Linked DNA regions of Homo sapiens: region 1 is linked to region 2. Evidence: fine-mapped QTL for protein levels in blood plasma. Region 2 holds a variant in brackets. A gene starts in the other region. All regions are shown on their forward strands.

Region 1 (8,325 bases), not on the chromosome of region 2:
CCTTTTTTACTCTCACTCAGCCTTATTCTCCATTCCTCCACCCTTCAGCTTCTTATATCTTTCTTCTTTCCTTTTGTTTTGCTTTTGCCCTAGAGCCATCAGTGTTCTGTATGAGTGCTTCAGACACAAAAGTTTCTGAAACATTTGTTGTTTTTGGTTAAAAAAAAAAAGTTGGGGATAGGAACAGGGATGATATTCTGGGATAAAGGCTCTCTACTCTCGGAATTAAGACATTTTTGAAATTGAAATACATCACACAGAATGGAATAGTTGCTATTGTTGAGTGTAGAAGTACATATTCTCAACAATGGAAGAACACAGACACAAAATGCTATCATTTATGAAGTATTTACTACATGTTAGAAATTTTAGAAAAAAAATAACTAACATTTGTTGAGTATTTGTTCATCACCATGTGGGGCACTCTATACTCAAAAGAATCTGAAACGAGGTCAAATAGTTCCTATGATTTCTTTCTATAAGCCAAGGAGGAATGGTCCAGGTATTCAGAAAATATAAATCATGAATCAAGTTTGTGTAGAATTTACCTGCAAAATTCTGCAACCTCTGTAACTTTTCACTTCTAGTTTTTTGCTTTTGTAACCTCTGTTAAATCTCTTGAAGCAAGAAGGTCTTTATGTTTGTCTTTGGGGTGAACAAAAATAAGGGGAAGTCAAGGAGCTTAGTTTCCACTCTCAGCCTTGTTGCATATTCACAGACGAAGAGGGGTGATGCTTGTGAAGAAGAACCTCAAAAGAAAAAGTGAATGGAGGTAGGAGAGAGGAAAGGAGTCAGTTGAAGGGGTGTAAGCTGAAGGCAAGGACAACCTGGGAGTAAGGGGTAGAAATTCATGTGTGCTTCACACTTTGGCAAAACTAAAAAGGGAATATTTTACAAGTTTCGAAAAAAGTTTTTCCTTATAGTTAATATTTTGTAAGTGAGCTAAATGGATTTTCTCATTTCACTACTACATTTCATATTTGTTCTTATAATCCAGTTTAATTATTCCTAAACCCTTTTAATCCTGAAGCTGGTTCTCCTGGGATGGAAGAGCCTTTCTCTTTTTTCTTTCCTTTAGACGTGATGTGAAATAACACAAATCCTTCTCTGGTATCTGTGGTGCTGACCATGCATCTTTGGGTGCAGAAAGCACTGGATTCTTACTCCCCAACTTGCAGAGGGAATTCTAGACTGCTGCACCTCCATATCCTCAGCAACTGGCATGATGATGAGCAGGGAGTTAGTAGAACTAATACACTAATATGTAAATGAATGAATGAATGTTTCCTGAGTGTGGCTTTAAGTTTCTCAGAAGAAGACAGTTCATACACTGGTGCATAAAATTCTGGGCTGAGGATATGAGGGCACCTAAGGCAAATGTGAAGTAATGGGATTTCTGATGAATGTGAGAAAGAGGCTAAGTAGGAGCTCGCTTAGCTTTGAATTCTCTGTTCTTTTTACCCCTTCCTCCTTCCCTTTCCTGCCTTGCCATCTCAGATCCTATTCTCATAGGCACTGGGCAGATGTGAGAGTGAGGACTGGACCTGGCACTCCAGACGGGAGATGATTGATTGACCAGTGAGATGTGAGAAGAAAGGAGGAAAATTAGGAGGCCACCACGCCTAACTTCAGGGCTGCCTGTGGCACTGACTTCCCCGGGTCCTGCTCAGGAAAGTAGGGTAATGACTAGTGCCATTCACAAGCTGTTTAGCTGACATTCTGAGAAGTTATTCAGCAAATTTAGAAGAGAAAGAGAATGATATAATGAACCAAAAAACAACAGTTCTCACCTTATTTATGATTTTTCTATTTCTGAATGAGTACTCAAATTTCACTGAGTACTTGAGTTTAATTTGATTATTTCACCCTATCAAGAAATCACTTTATTCTTAGAATTTTCCTGTTAGTTGAAAATAGAATTGTATTATAAATTACATAGGACTTTTATACTATATATAGTTTACGACGTATATTTATATGTAAGCTATACATAACTAAACTTGGAAAGAGGGTAGGGATTGAGATTATATGTGATCACACAAATATCTGTGTATGTGTATCTCTATACATCATTTGTAAATATGTAAATATAATGCATTTCTTATTAGAAATTATAGCTTGAATTCCATAGTGAAATTCATCCTTCCCTATGGACATGGAGGCAAGTGCCCTATAAAATTAACAAACTTTTGTTCCAAGAACATTTATTTCTGAGGGTGCAGAGTATCAATTTCAAGGTTGAGTTTCTTTAAAAATCAGGAGCTAATTTTTAATGAATTAACATTCAAAGGATCTATATGACCTAATCCACTACCTGACAATTGCTGGTATGAGGGAAATGTGGCCCCAAGACCACTGAGTTCAGAGATGAGTCTGAAAACAATTTTAACATGAAAATTTATGAAAGATATGTACACACACTACATACCTCTCAACAGCCTAAGAAGAATCTTGTGCTGGCAGAGAGCAGAAACAAAGACTGAAATTAACACTGAAGATATCAGCTGACTTCATCTTATGGGTTAACCTATTCTATTTTGTAATTCTGTGAAAATCTCATGATTATTTTTAATTTTCGAAAACATTTTTCTATGTTCTTTTTAATAGCAACAGTCCAGTCATTCAGGACTCATACATTCTTTAGCTGAAGTTATTTTATTGATCTTCATTTACTATCAGTTAACTTTTAACCAAGATATTTCCCACATTTGTTATCATAAACTTTTAGTATTTATTAGTACAAATTTTTCCCCTTTCCTAGACACAAAGACATAAGACCTGTTATTACTGGATTTTTTTTCCATTTCAGAAGCTTGAGTTTCTCTTCATAAATATTTTCATAAAAAGCTATTTCCCTAATATCACTAGATTATCTATCAACATAGTCCTACTTTATATTTAAACTAGCTCTGATATCAGCCCATAGTACCTTCCAATTTTTAGCAAAGTGAGATCAGTGTCAATCTAAGCCTTTTTTGTAAAAGGATCCAATTTATGACTGATCAAAATGCTTGCTTAACAATGTTTGGTTTTCTAATTTGATGTGCAGTGCTACTACATCTAAAACAACAACTTTGCTTTTTCTATACAGCTATTCCTGAGATCTGTATTCTCAACTTCCTCCCTAAATTTTTGGAAAGACTATTTAGTAATAAAAAAAGTCCATAGATTCTGTTTTAACTTTTCCATTCTTACTCATTTTTACTTTCCACGAGACAAACCTAATAATGAAAAGCAATGTTAGTTAAAAATGTTGTTTCTAAAGGCCTGTCAAAGCTTGTATTTAGCATATATTTTTGGGGGTTGTGGGGGTGATGCAGCATAGTTCTTAGGTTTTTCTATTGCTGAAATAACACTGTAAATCTCTTCCTACCCATGCCTTAAATTCCTCAGTATTTCTGGTCTTGCACAACAACATATCTGTGAGCTTATATGTCTTCTTAGAAATAACAGACTTACTTTGGAACATAAGCACTTAGGAAATGTTCAACCACTTGTGATCTTGCATTAGTACATTTTCCAAGCTATTCTAGGCAGATAGAGCAAATCAGAGAAAGTTCTTACCTCTTGAAGGGCGTAAGACAATGCACATCACCAATAAGGCAAGCACAGCAGAGGTGGCAACTCCAAATACGATTTTTACCCAAGTCTACATAAAATAAAGAGAATTAGGCATACACACAGTTCCTGCTAAATAGTAGAAATGGCAAGATTTTGTTTACACCTAAATCCTTTTTCTCTCGCCCCACAAAGCTTTTGATTGTTTTCCACTGATCCGGCTATAATTGCTGGAATTCTTCCAGCTCTGCAAGGACAAATGTTTCTACAGTATATTTAGAACAATTTTCCAATCCCAACCCATTGAGGAAGTAAATACTTATGTACAAATCTTCACCTTCTAAACAATAGAAAACTCTGATCACGTTCAATCCAGCCAACCCTAATTTTTTAAGAATACTTGAGGTTGCTTATACTAACCTTCATTTTTCCAGATGTTTTTGAAAGTTAGCTAATTCTGTCTTCAGAGCGTGGGTCACTGGATCTGTGAAAACCGTTGAAAAGGACCAAGTCTGTCTTTGTAGTTGGAAGCTGAAGCCAGGACAAGGTTTTTTTCTTTCCACGGACTTTTGAATACCGTGCCAAGTTTCAAAAGATTTCTGTAAAATTAGAAACAGATTTTGGGGGCGTTCTTGGCCCTCAAATGAACTGTGAGTGACTCAAGGGAAGTTTTATAGCCTTCTCATCCTTGTAACTACACCAACATCTGCTTACGTTGACATACAGAGGTTTTTATTTTTTCTTTTTTACCAGTTCAGGTTTATGTTGCATTTTCTTCTAGAATTCACTGAAGGATCACTTTAGCAAGTCATTGGGTTTTGCATAACATTTTTATTTGCCACTAAAAGATGAATTTAAAATAATGAAACTTGCAGGTCTGTACATTAAACATATATCTACTTTTTAACAGAGGAAGAACATTGAAGCCACATAAGATTTTGTGAGAAATGTGCCATATAACTGCACTTTTTTTTCCTCTGGAAGATTATGAGGTATTGCAGACAGAAATGTTTTTCTTTCAGCACAATTTCTTTGTCCATATAGCACCATATGCACTTTCAGTAAATACAGAAGTTTAAAAATTCAACTGTCTAAACCCACGGCTGCTTTACTTTAAAGAAATAAAATGCCATCTGGTGAAATTTAGTATGGGTTAGGTGTGTATGCACAGGCTAGAAAGATGGAAAGATCAGTAAGAATAATTTACCAGCAGACCTTTGGAAGAATGGAAATGGCTTTACAAGAGTGGTATTTTTGCTTTCCTCTCAGAATATCTTCTGAGAGAGGAGAACATCTAGTAATTATAAAGATTTAAAAATAAATAAAAAAGCATCTGAAAAGAAAAGTAAATCTTATGTATAATTTCATTTTGGCTAAATCTACATAATTCCAAAGAAATTGGTCATCTTGACAGATTAGTAAAATGGTTGACTGAATTAAAAAAAATACACATACAACAGTTTCTTGGAGTGTTCTGTCTGTTTTAATGCAATTCACTTGGATAGATTTTGTGGTTCCACGTAAACACAGTTGTTAAATCTACTGTGTCCTTAATTTTTCCACTAATGGTTTTCTTTTTTCGAAGTTTATAATGTTCCCAACCTGATTAAAACACTTCATGGCAACCTTTCTTGGATTGTACATGAAAGGTAATGGGGAAATGTTACCAAAACATGTTGCTGTTTGCCTTAGTCAACTTCTCTGGCTACCACGGGACACTTTCTCCAGCAAAGAGCAGGACAGTGGCTTGTGAACTTCCTTTCAGACATTCTCCAGACATCCCTCCCTGAATTCCAGCCTTATGAAAATTCTGTTGAGGAAAATGAGTCATTAGGCACTTACTGGCAGAGAACTGTATTCCTGGTGGCTGGGGCTGGGCCCTCTCCTTTGCTGTTGGTGGAGTCACCTCTTTACAAAATGAAGTAATCATTAAGAGTAATATCCAAGGTGTGCTATACACTTGTAGGTATCTCCAAGTGATTGTGAAATCCTCAGATCTCAGATAAAAGCCAGCAGCCAGGTCCTGAATGAACTGTTTCTGTGTAAGTCCTCTCAGATTGATTGTCTTCTCTGGAACACACCGTGTTCTCAGAAGTTCTGCCCTAGCCTGCCAAAGCCCCAGAGTACACAGGCACTTTTTAGTGGGTGATTTCCAAGACTTTACATTGTAGAGAGAAACTATAATAAATTATTAGGGTGTAATTAAAAGACCATGCTGAGAGCATGTTAGCTCTAGCAATTAAGAATGCACTGACATGTGACTGGTCTGAGCACCACTTAGGATTCTATGACTGTGTGTGGGTGTCCACAAGATACTCATTTAATAGGCTCTATGAAGAGGTTGGAGTGCTTTAAGATACACTTAAGTTGCCACTATTAGTAAGGGTGGGAAATGATGAGAGTGAAACAATGTCTGTTTAAGTTTTTTTGTTTTTTCCTTGGAAGGTTGGGTGAGTCAAGCTGTAACTTCTGGAAAATTCTTACTAGTTTGAACTGTTTTAAGAAAAATGAGACTGACTGCAGAAATAAAGATGTCGAGTTTTTCCATCTGAATTCATGGTTTAGGGAGGTATTGTTTTTATAAAGTCACACATGTTCATTCGTTTGAGATAATGTGAATGTATTCTAATTTTCATCCAGACAAGAACTCTCATAAAATTTGGATTTTTAAAATATTGTAATATCTTTATTAGCTTTTTTTAATTTTGGAATCAAAATGAAAATACTTTTGTCAACTTTTAAAAAACATTTACGAAACTGACTCTTATTCCTACTTTATACAATTAGTTAACACCCCATCAACATTTTTGTTGAGAAAACAAAAATGAATCAGACACAGTCTGTGCCCTTAAGGAACTTACATTCTAGTATAAGTATGGCAGGTATGTTCTTAATGTTCTTACATACTTGTTTCCTTTTGCTTCCTAAAGCTCTTGTTCAGAAATAGCCTGAAGCTGAGTTTGTGTTCTGTAGAAAGAGTGTTCTCACTGGTTGGTGATTTCTTCATGGACCTGGGAAGAGGACTGGAAAGGGCACATACCACATGCATGTCATCCTTAGTTCAACCTTTGTTAGTTCTAACCTTTGTTAGTACTGAGACTTTTCTCAGAAAGCAACTCTGGGTCTATTAAAATGCTGCAAAACCAGAAAGGATGATGATTTGTCATGTAAAAATGTAAGGGCAGCAATTAGGAGAGTAGAGGCTCATCAACTGAGTTCTTTCCAGAGAGGGACCTTGTAAGGCTGACTTTGGAATATGACTGCATTCTGGTAAGCCCACTGGATAAGTGAGCTATAACATAAATCCTTAGGTTATAAGGAGGAGAGCTTACTAGAACTATTTATTAGTAGCCAATGTTTACCTGCCAAAAATGATTTTAATTTATATGTTTTCCCAGAAAACACATCCAGCTATGTATTTCTAGAGTCTGAAGGTAAGACCATGCTGAGAGCATAAGGATGTTATCTTTTTATTTTATGGTGGGGAGATGAAAGAGAGATGTGTTTATTAACCAAAAGCCATGACAAATTATTTAAGGACAAGTTACAAGGGGAATAAGGATACAAGTGCAGTAAACATAAGCCTGATTTTATACTCTTTAAAGTAAAAATTTGCTTCTAGAGAGCCTAACAGCTCCTAACATCCTACCCATTTGATTCCTCAGATTCAATAAACATTTATTGTTTACTGTTATCTACAAAGTGATTTTAATGCATTATTTCATCTGATCCATACCAAAACTCATTTTGATGATTAGGAAACAGCCTAGAAAAACTGGATAACTTGCCCAAGATTTTAACAGGACCCAGTGTTACCACCTTACATTGCTTCTTTGTGATACTTCCTAAAGTTTTATTCCAAAGTGATAAATTTTTTTTAAAATTATAATTGACATTTCACTGATTTGCTGTTGGGGGACACTTAAGGTTGTGAGGGTAAAATAATTAAGGCTAAAATATTAATGATGTTCACATCCTCAAAGTACTTTGTTACACATATCTCAAAAGAACACAATTTCACTCTACAAGGACTGTGTTCAAAATATTAATTTGTTTACAGTTTTTTTTTAATCGGGGTCTATTAATCCGATGATTATTTATATAGTGCCTGGGTTAAAAGCTCTTCCTCCAGGGACTTGCTTAAATGAAAGGATTCAACAAAATACCCATCGTCAAAGAGATTTTTGAGTTCCAAGCTAGAAAGAGTCCTGAGGTCTTCAAAGCTCAAAATAACTATCACATAGTTATAGATCTGGAAGAAGTGGCATAATATAGCATCAGTGGGAAATGATATAGCTCAAACTATTTTTTGAATCTGATCTCTTTTCTAAAACCACAATTGTTACATAAGGAAGAATATAAAGCCACATGCCTCCTAGTTTGTAATTGGCATCTACTACCTTCATAAATGTTATAATTAGATGTCAGTGTTTCATTATCCTATCATAATTAGGGCAAGTGCTCCTTGGAGACCCAAAGGGTTAACTATCAAAATGGGGTTAGAAAAGAAACAGAACAGAGACACAACCCATTTCTTTGAGTGCTGAGGACACAAAGACTCAGAAGATAAATCAGTGCTTCATTGTCATTTAAATAGGGAAATACTACATCTTTTTAGAAGTGGTTAACCAACAAGAAGACTGTTTAAATAGTATAAATAGAATGTGTAAGCACCTATAGACTAACATAACTTGTTAACACATATTGTTTTTTCACTAGCATTTTTAGATTAGAGAATATTACTACTACTAGTTCATGTCTATTGAA
Region 2 (8,309 bases):
CTCATTCCCTTCCCCTCTGAGGCCTTTTATTGTTATTATTTATTTTATTTATTTATTTTTTTGAGTCGGAGTCTTGCTCTGTCGCCCAGGCTGGAGTGCAGTGGCACGATCTCGGCTCACTGCAAGCTCCGCCTCCCAGGTTCACGCCATTCTCCTGCCTCAGCCTCCTGAGTAGCTGGGACTACAGGCGTCTGCCACCACACCCGGCTGACTTTTTGTGTTTGTAGTAGAGACGGGGTTTCACGTGTTAGCCAGGATGGTCTCGATCTCCTGACCTCATGATCCGCCCGCCTCGGCCTCCCAAAGGGCTGGGATTACAGGCGTGAGCCACCGCGCCCAGCTCTTGACAAAATTTCTTTAGCAGCTGCTTGAGTGTCCAGTTCATGCATTCCACTTTACCTGAGCTCTGCAGCCTGTAAGCTGTATGTAATTTCCACTTTATTTTTAATAATCAAGTTAAGTCCTGAACTATTTCAGCCATAAATATTGGGCTATTGTCTGATCTTAGAGTTAGAGGCAGTCCAAATCTGGGAATAATGTCTCTTAACAACACCTTGGTTACTTCTAGTGCCTTCTCTGTCCGGGTGGGGAAGGCCTCAACCTCCTGAAAAGGTGCAAATGAACACCCACGTGCACTGATAACCCCCCTCTCAGGGTACTTCCTCGAAGTCCGTACCACAGTTTTTCACAGGGTATGGCTGCCTGGCTCCTGTTTCCTGAACTCCTGGGGGCCGAGTAGGCCCTTGTCATGCATTGTTCTGAGCACGAATTTAACACCATTTGTTTACAAATGGCTCGAGTAATAGCAGTGAGCCATGGCACATAGAAATGATGCCTTAACAGGGCCAGGCGCGGTGGCTCACGCCTGTAATCCCAGCACTTTGGGAGGCCGAGGTGGGCGGATCACAAGGTCGGGAGATCGAGACTAACACGTGAAACCCCGTCTCTACTAAAAATACAAAAAAAATTAGCCGGGTGTGGTGGCGGGCACCTGTGGTCCCAGCTACATGGGAGGCTGAGGCAGGAGAATGGCGTGAACCTGGGAGGCGGAGCTTGCAGTGAGCCGAGATCACGCCACAGCACTCCAGCCTGGGGGATAGAGCGAGACTCTGTCTCAAAAAAAAAAAAAAAAGAAATGATGCCTTAATAACGTCTTTAGTGCTGGTTTTTTGGGTTTTTTTTCCAGTGGAACTGTTTTACAAATCTGAGGGCCACCATTCCAGGTATGGCTAGCCTCCCGTTGGAAAATTTTTACCATCTTTCTTCAATGTAGTTCTTATTCTTGTGGGCAAACCAAGACTTTTCGTTTGGAGGGGACCTTGGGATCCCCAGGAGGGGAATCTCCGGGAGCGGGAGGCATAGCTAAGGCTTCCTCTCTAGAAGGTGGAGTTGTCGTTGCAGCCCGTTTGCCTCTTCGTCTGCCTTTCTGCTTTGCTGCTTTTCGGGGCCTCCTGCAGCGCATCACTGCCACCTCTTCCAGGGCCCACACAGCGTTTAACAGAGGTGGAATTTCCTCCTTATACTTTGTTTTTTCACTTCCAGCCGTTAAAAGTCTTTTATTCTTTGTAAACAGCCTCATGAACATGCAAAGTGGCAGAAGCATATTTGGAATCTGTGTAAATACTTGCCTTCTGCTCTTTTCCTAGCCAGAGAGCTCTTGTCAGAGCTATTAGCTCTGCTTTCTAAGCAGAAGTTTCTGCAGACAGAGACGGTACCTCTACTGCTGAGTCCAAAGTCACCGCGGCATACCCAGCTCGGCAGACTCCCCTTAGTACGAAACTGCTTCCATCAGTAAAATATTCAATGTCCAGGTCCCCGAGGGGCCAATCTGTTAAATCTTTCCAGCTTGAGAACACTTTATCTACCACGTCCACACAGCAATGAAGGGGACTTCCTGTGTAGGGTCCAGCCCTACGGGGGCTTAGCGGGTGTTCTCCCCGTGTGCAGAGACAAGAGATCGTAAGAAATAAAGACACAAGACAAACAGATAAAGAGAAAACAGCTGGGCCCAGGGGACCACTACCACCAAGACATGGAGACCGCTAGTGGCTCCGAACGGCTGGCTGCGCTGATATTTATTGAATACAAGACAAGGGGGCAGGGTACGGACGGTGAGTCGTCCAAGTAATTGATAAGGTGAAGCAAGTCACGTGATCATAGGACAGGGGGCCTTTCCCTCTTAGGTAGCCGAGCAGAGAGAGAAGGCAGCATACGTCAGCGTTTTCTTCTATGCACTTATAAGAACAATCAAAGACTTTAAGACTTTCACTATTTCTTCTACCGCTATCTACTACGAACTTCAAAGAGGAACCAGGAGTACGGGAAGAGCATGAAAGTGGACAAGGAGTGTGATCATTCAAGCACCACAGGGAGGGGGTTAGGCCTCCGGATGACTGCAGGCCAGGCCTGGAGAATATCCAGCCTCCCACAAGAAGCTGGCGGAGCAGAGTGTTCCCTGACTCCTCCAAGGAAAGGAGACTCCCTTTCACGGTCGGCTAAGTAACGGGTGCCTTCCCAGGCACTGGCGTTACCGCTTGACCAAGGAGCCCTCAAGCGGCCCTTATGTTGGCGTGACAGAGGGCTCACCTCTTGCCTTCTAGGTCACTTCTCACAACGTCCCTTCAGCACCTGACCCTATACCCGCCGGTTATTCCCAGGTTATATAGTAATGGAACAAAGAGTAATATTAAAAGCTAATGATTAATAATGTTTATAATAACGATTGATAATTGTCCGTGATCATCTCTATATCTAATTTGTGTTATGACTCTATGACTGTTCTTATTCCATTTTCTTTATTATACTGAAACAGTTTGTGCCTTCAGTCTCTTGCCTGGGCACCTGGGTCATCCTCCACCCACAGCTGACTTCACACCGTGCTCTTCCTTGAGCATGTCTCAGGTTTCCGGGAAGCTGATGTTTTTGGGAGTGCAGAAGGCTTGGGAAGTGTGGTTCCTGGTCTCTTACGTGGCCGTCTGTGGAGTAGCGTCCGGACGCTGGGGTACCGTGGGAAGGGTGGTTCCCGGTCTCTTACGTGGCCGTCTGTGGAGTAGCGTCCGGACGCTGGGGTACCGTGGGAAGGGTGGTTCCTGGTCTCTTACGTGGCCGTCTGTGGAGTAACGTCCGGATGCTGGGGTACTGTCTCTGGCAGGGCTGTTTTCTCAGGCACCTTCTCCCACCTGGACTCAAGGGTTCTGCTTTCTTAGAAGTTTCTGTTTCCTGCTGTTTGGAAATTCGTGAATTGTGTGAGGTCTGAGGAGGGGGGTAACACATTTCTGAACGTGAAGTTATACATTGAGGGTGGGTAGAAGCACTGTGGGCTAAGGAGGCTTCTCTGCAGGACCCCATCAGGACGGTGTCAGGGCGTGTGGAAACACTGTAGGCTAAGTAAGCAGGCTTCTCTGCAGGACCCCATCAGGACGGTGTCAGGGCGTGTGGAAAAACTGTAGGCTAAGTAAG[G/C]AGGCTTCTCTGCAGGACCCCATCAGGACGGTGTCAGGGCGGGTAGAAGCACTGTGGGCTAAGTAAGGAGTCTTCTCTGCAGGAGCCGCATCAGGACAGCGTCAGGTGACTCCAACCTCCTCTTGTAGGGGTGCCAGAGGCCCCTGTGCGCTTTACCAGGCCTGGGAGTCTCCTCTCCTCACCCCAGCTGCTGCAGGACCTCACTGTCTTGGTACAGGTCCCTGCCAGGCCCCAATGGGGCTTCCACACTCCAGGCCCCACAGGGAGCCCCTCAAGCCTTCGCCTCTCTCGTCACAGGCCTCCTCTGCTGAAATCTTCCCTTTTCTGGGGCTGCGGTCCTGCTCTATGTGGGTTCAGAGGCCTAAGCCTCCCCGTGTCTCCTGGTGCAGGTCAGAGACCCAGTGGCCACTGCTCCTGCCCCACAGCAGCCCTCCAGGCCCAGGACCGGGGACGACAGGGAGCACTGACTGAAGAGGAGGCTGTCTTTGGACACGGGGAGGATTCCAGGGCCTGTGGGGGCAGCTTCGGTGCTCAGGGCTCACACGTGTGACCCCCTCCTTCCGCTTTCCGGGGCCCCTTTGTTTTATAAAATGCCACAGAGGTCGAGGGGACATGAGGGTCAGGGGGGAGGGGGGTTCCTGGACTCGGGGCCACACCCAGTAGGGCTTGGGCAGGGCTCTAGGGCCCCACTGGCCAAAAGCTTCCTGAGATTACAGCAGTTTCCTCTTCCTGCCTCAGTGCCCCACGGACAGGGGGTGCGATCTGAGCAGAATGAGGTGACGTCACTGGGTCAGCGGCTCCTGTGGCATCTGGCCAAGGACAATGTGCTGAGAAGTTTCCCCTGAAAAAATCAGAAACAAAACTCACCTCAGGAGAGGCCCCTGCACCCTCCAAGAGGAAGTGGGAGTCACGTGAGGCTCGTCTTGATTGGGGTTCCTGGAGAGGAGGCCCCCTCTCCCCAGGTGGGGGCTCCTGTTTCCCCTGCTCTGCTCTGAGGTCCCCAGGGTCCAGTCCCCTCCCCACCCTATCCTGGAGCTTGTCAAGGCCACCAGAGACCTGCTCCCTGTGCCGTCTCAGACTGGACTCTGGGGTCTCCGGTGCCTCCTCTGATTCTGCACCTCGGTGCAGCCTCTGGCCTGGCTGCGCTCTGAGGAGCTCCCTGTGGCCACCGAGCCCTTGGAACGTGGCCAGTTCCATTCTCAAACTGCTGTGAGTGCAAAGCTCATGCTGGATTTTGAAGATTTGGTGAGAAAAAAAATTTCTTTGTAAAATGTCAGTATTTCATCAATAGTATATTTTGTTGATGATATGTTGAGAAACTATTTTGGATATGTTTGTTTAAGTAGATTGCTGGCCAGGCATGGTGGCTCACTCCTGTAATCCCAGCACTGGGAGGCCAAGGCAAGAGGATCGCTTGAGGCCGGGTGGTTGAGGCTGCCGTGAGCTGTAATGGTGCCACTGCCCTCCAGCATGGATGACAGAGACCCCACCTCTAAAAACAATTAATTAATTAAAATTAAATCAGTAAAAAATTTTTTTAATTAAAATTTTAAAAAATAGATTATTAAAACAAATATCACCCATTTACTTTTGCTTTTTTAGAAACATTGGTACTGGAAGATTTAGCATTGGGTGTGCAGGGCCCACCCTCTTCGCTCATGTCACTGGCCCCTTCCACTGGCGGCATTGCAGGGGGAGCCGCCGTGCATCCAGAAGTGAGGGTCCTGGCCTGGAGATCTGCTCCCGCAAGTCCCCCAGGACTCCGGCTTCCTCTCAGGGGTTCACTTCTTTCTTGAATTAGAGCTGGGTCTCCTGGCCACAAAGGAGCTGTATCTTTGAGGCTTGGAGCCTTCCCCAAATATGCCTCGTATGGCACGGGGCAGGCCTCTGGGCAGTGGGCAGCGGGGGCTCGCTGCTGCCAGTCCCTGACCCCCGCCTTGGTGTGAGTGCTTCAAGTGGCTTCCCCACTGCCGTTCAAACACGATAACTTCAGAAGGTGGCATTTGTACCTGACATCTTGGGAATCTTAAGACTTTTTCTAATGGTTTCCAAGGACAGGCTAATAATCAGAGAGATGAGAACAACCTGGTCATCATTAGGAAAACAAAATGTTCTCACTGCACAGGAAAATAAGGTTGATATTTCTGTGAACCTACTCAAATTAACACCCAATCAAAACCAATTTTTTTTTTTGAGATGGAATCTCACCCTTGTTACCCAGGCTGGAGTGCAATGGCGTGATCTCGGCTCACCGCAACCTCTGCCTCCCGGGTTCAAGCAATTCCCAGCCTCAGCCTCCCAAGTAGATGAGATTACAGGCATGAGCCACCACGCCCGGCTAATTTTGTACTTTTGGTAGAGACGGGATTTCTCCATGTTGGTCAGGCTGGTCTCGAACTCCCGACCTCAGGTGATCTGCCTGTCTCAGCCTCCCAAAGTGCTGGGATTACAGGTGTGTGCCACCATGCCTACCCACAAACTGATTTTTTAAAAATTTATCTAGATTGTAAAAAAATATATCTTCTTCTTTTTTTTTTTTTTTTTTTTCCTGAGACGGAGTCTCGCTCTGTCGTCCAGACTGGAGTGCAGTGGCGCAATCTCAGCTCACTGCAAGCTATGCCTCCCAGGTTCACACCATTCTCCTGCCTCAGCCTTCTGAGTAGCTGTGACTACAGGCACCCGCCACCACGCCTGGCTAATTTTTTGTATTTTTAGTACAGATAGAATTTCACCCTGTTAGCCAGGATGGTCTCAATCTCCTGACCTTGTGATCTGGCCGCCTCGGCCTCCCAAAGTGCTGGGATTACAGGTGTGAGCCACCGCGCCCGGCCTGTCTTCTTCTTCCTAAGTAAGTGAAGGAAATAATGTATACAGTGGTCCATTTCCAAGACAAAGTGCCTTAAATCAGCTTAGGTCAGCAAACTACAGAAGAAACAGGATATACTAGGCCCCTGCTTGGATAGCTGATGCCTTCTTGTCAGCCTTCTCCCTCCCCTTCTCCCTCCACTTAGTTGCCCTTACCCAAACCAGGGAAGTTTCGTCTAAGATAAAAGTTTACTAGCCTGCAAAATAGCTCGGTTTGTCTGTCCTTATCAGCCTGCCCAGCTACTTAGCTCATAAGTCAAATACGCAGAGCCCCTGGGCTGACTGGGATTGCAATGCATTGTGGGCTGCAACAAAATGCAGCAGGACAACCCAAAAGAAGACACCTAAAGCTGCTGCCCAACAACCAATGGGAAGACTGTGACCCCACAGTACTCAGCCTATGAGGATGCAGGGGAGGGGCCTGTGCACTGGGAGATAAATCGCTGGTTGTGACTGTGCTGTGAGTGCCTGCCCATCAGATAGATACCTGATCTTGCAAGACCGTCATCAAAAGTCTCACTTTTGCTGTCTTCTGCGTTTCTAAATCCATTCTTTGGGTTCGGGCGAGTGAGTTTGTTTCTCACAGTAAGCTCTAGAACTTTGTGACTTAGCAGTTTAAGGAAAAAGCAAGTCTCTGTGGGGTCTCTCAATGGCCAAAAAATAGAGTGAGGAATAAATAGAGTTTTGTTTTGTTTTGTTTTGGTTTGTGGGTTTTGTTTCTTTGTTTGAAACAGGGTCTCACTCTGTCACCCAGGCTGAAGTGCAGTGGCACCATCACAGATCACTGCAGACTCCACCTCCTGGGCTCAAGCAATCCTCCTGTCTCAGCCTCCCGAGTAGCTGGAACTCCCAAGTAACACACACATTAGCATGCCCAGCTAATGTTTAAATTAGGGTTTTAATTCACAGAGAAATAAAGAGCATCTGAGCATTCATCTTCCACAAAAGCAATCTGAAATTGTCTCTGTAAGTGGGCGCCCTGTCTTTCTGCAGGCTCAGAGTGGAGAATGAGGTTGCATCTCAGGATGGCCACAGCGCCTTCCTTCCCAAGCCCTTTCTTCAGCAGCCGTGGTGGGAGCTGCAGCCGAAAAGCCCCTTTGGAGTTGCAGCTAGAGGGTGCCTTCCAGGAGCTGCTGGGCCAGCTTCACCAATGCCTGCAGACGGTCAGGACAGATTCAGAGAAGCTCTGGGTCAGAACGAGGGTGAAAAGCCCCTTCCTCGAGCTTCCGGTCGAACAGCCCCATGGGGGTGCCCTGACCTTCTTGCTCTAATGCAGCTGCTGTTCCCCGGGGCAGCGACTCCCCTTCTCTCCCTCCCAAGTGCGGCCCTGCCCTCTTCACAGGCACACACCCCACAGCACGTGCAGTGCCTCAAGGCGCCCGAGGTGCACGGGGAGGCCCATCAGTGCTGTTCCCCAAGCCTCCAGCTTTCTTGCTGGAATCTTTCTTTCCCACCCCTTTGCAGCTTGGCATGAGCTTGTCACTTGAGGTGGCCAGTGAGATGTTGTGGGCATGAGAGGTGGTGCCAAGAGATCAGGCGTGACTCCACCTCCCGTTCCCACCTCGGAGGCCTGGCAGCACACGCTGGGGGCTCCCCAACCTGGGCGGCTGGGCGAGGACGAGGCGCAGACCCCACACCTGCCACAGGCCCACACTGGAGGGAGTCAGCGGCTGAGGGTCGGGCCGTTCGTTACCACCGCACAGCCTGGCTCATCCTGGCTGACTCGGGGCAGTGCTGCCCGGGCCAGGCGGAGCAGGGAGGACGTGGTGGGGTGTTTGGAAGGCGGAGCAAGAACCTAATAAATGTGAGCCCTGGACTCTGAGGCCGGGCAGCGAATGTTCTGCGGGTGCTGTCTGCGGCCGGATGTGGGTTTTGGCATCATGAGCTCAGGAGAGAACTGGCCGGTGGGTGAGCAGGTGCGAAAGGAAACCGAGAAAACCCGGGGGGTACTTTGTGGGTTAAAAGAGGCAACTGCCTTTCCATCC

Alleles and levels. Alleles are on the strand shown, and positions count from the first base shown. The strength of an association depends on the size of the effect and on how common the allele is.
As copies of C replace G in region 2, the plasma level of the protein whose gene starts at base 4,102 in region 1 goes up (weak association).

What was found. PIP is the chance, under the fine-mapping model, that this variant and not a neighbour inherited with it causes the effect. Protein levels are from antibody-based Olink assays in UK Biobank. Linkage for the fine-mapping came from a reference panel and not from the study's own genotypes, which makes the PIPs less certain.
Region 1: FAP starts here. The variant in region 2 is fine-mapped to the plasma level of the FAP protein (UK Biobank, PIP 0.94).

What each region holds. Positions count from the first base shown.
Region 1 is chr2:162,239,344-162,247,668 of GRCh38, forward strand. It overlaps FAP (fibroblast activation protein alpha), which reads right to left and starts at 4,102. Exons shown (of 26, transcript NM_004460.5): 1 at 3,979-4,102; 2 at 3,565-3,649. The coding sequence starts at 3,984. It overlaps LOC105373724 (a long non-coding RNA gene), which reads left to right and starts at 6,774. Exons shown (of 4, transcript XR_923544.3): 1 at 6,774-6,828.
Region 2 is chr11:322,925-331,233 of GRCh38, forward strand. It overlaps IFITM3-AS1 (IFITM3 antisense RNA 1), which reads left to right. Exons shown (of 5, transcript XR_007062540.1): 2 at 1,651-4,704; 3 at 7,059-8,309. Among named protein-coding and RNA genes, the nearest start is that of IFITM3, 6.2 kb to the left of the region's middle. RefSeq lists enhancers at 3,573-3,712, 4,133-4,502, 4,563-4,612, 8,223-8,309. The variant G/C (reference allele first, on the strand shown) is at 3,460.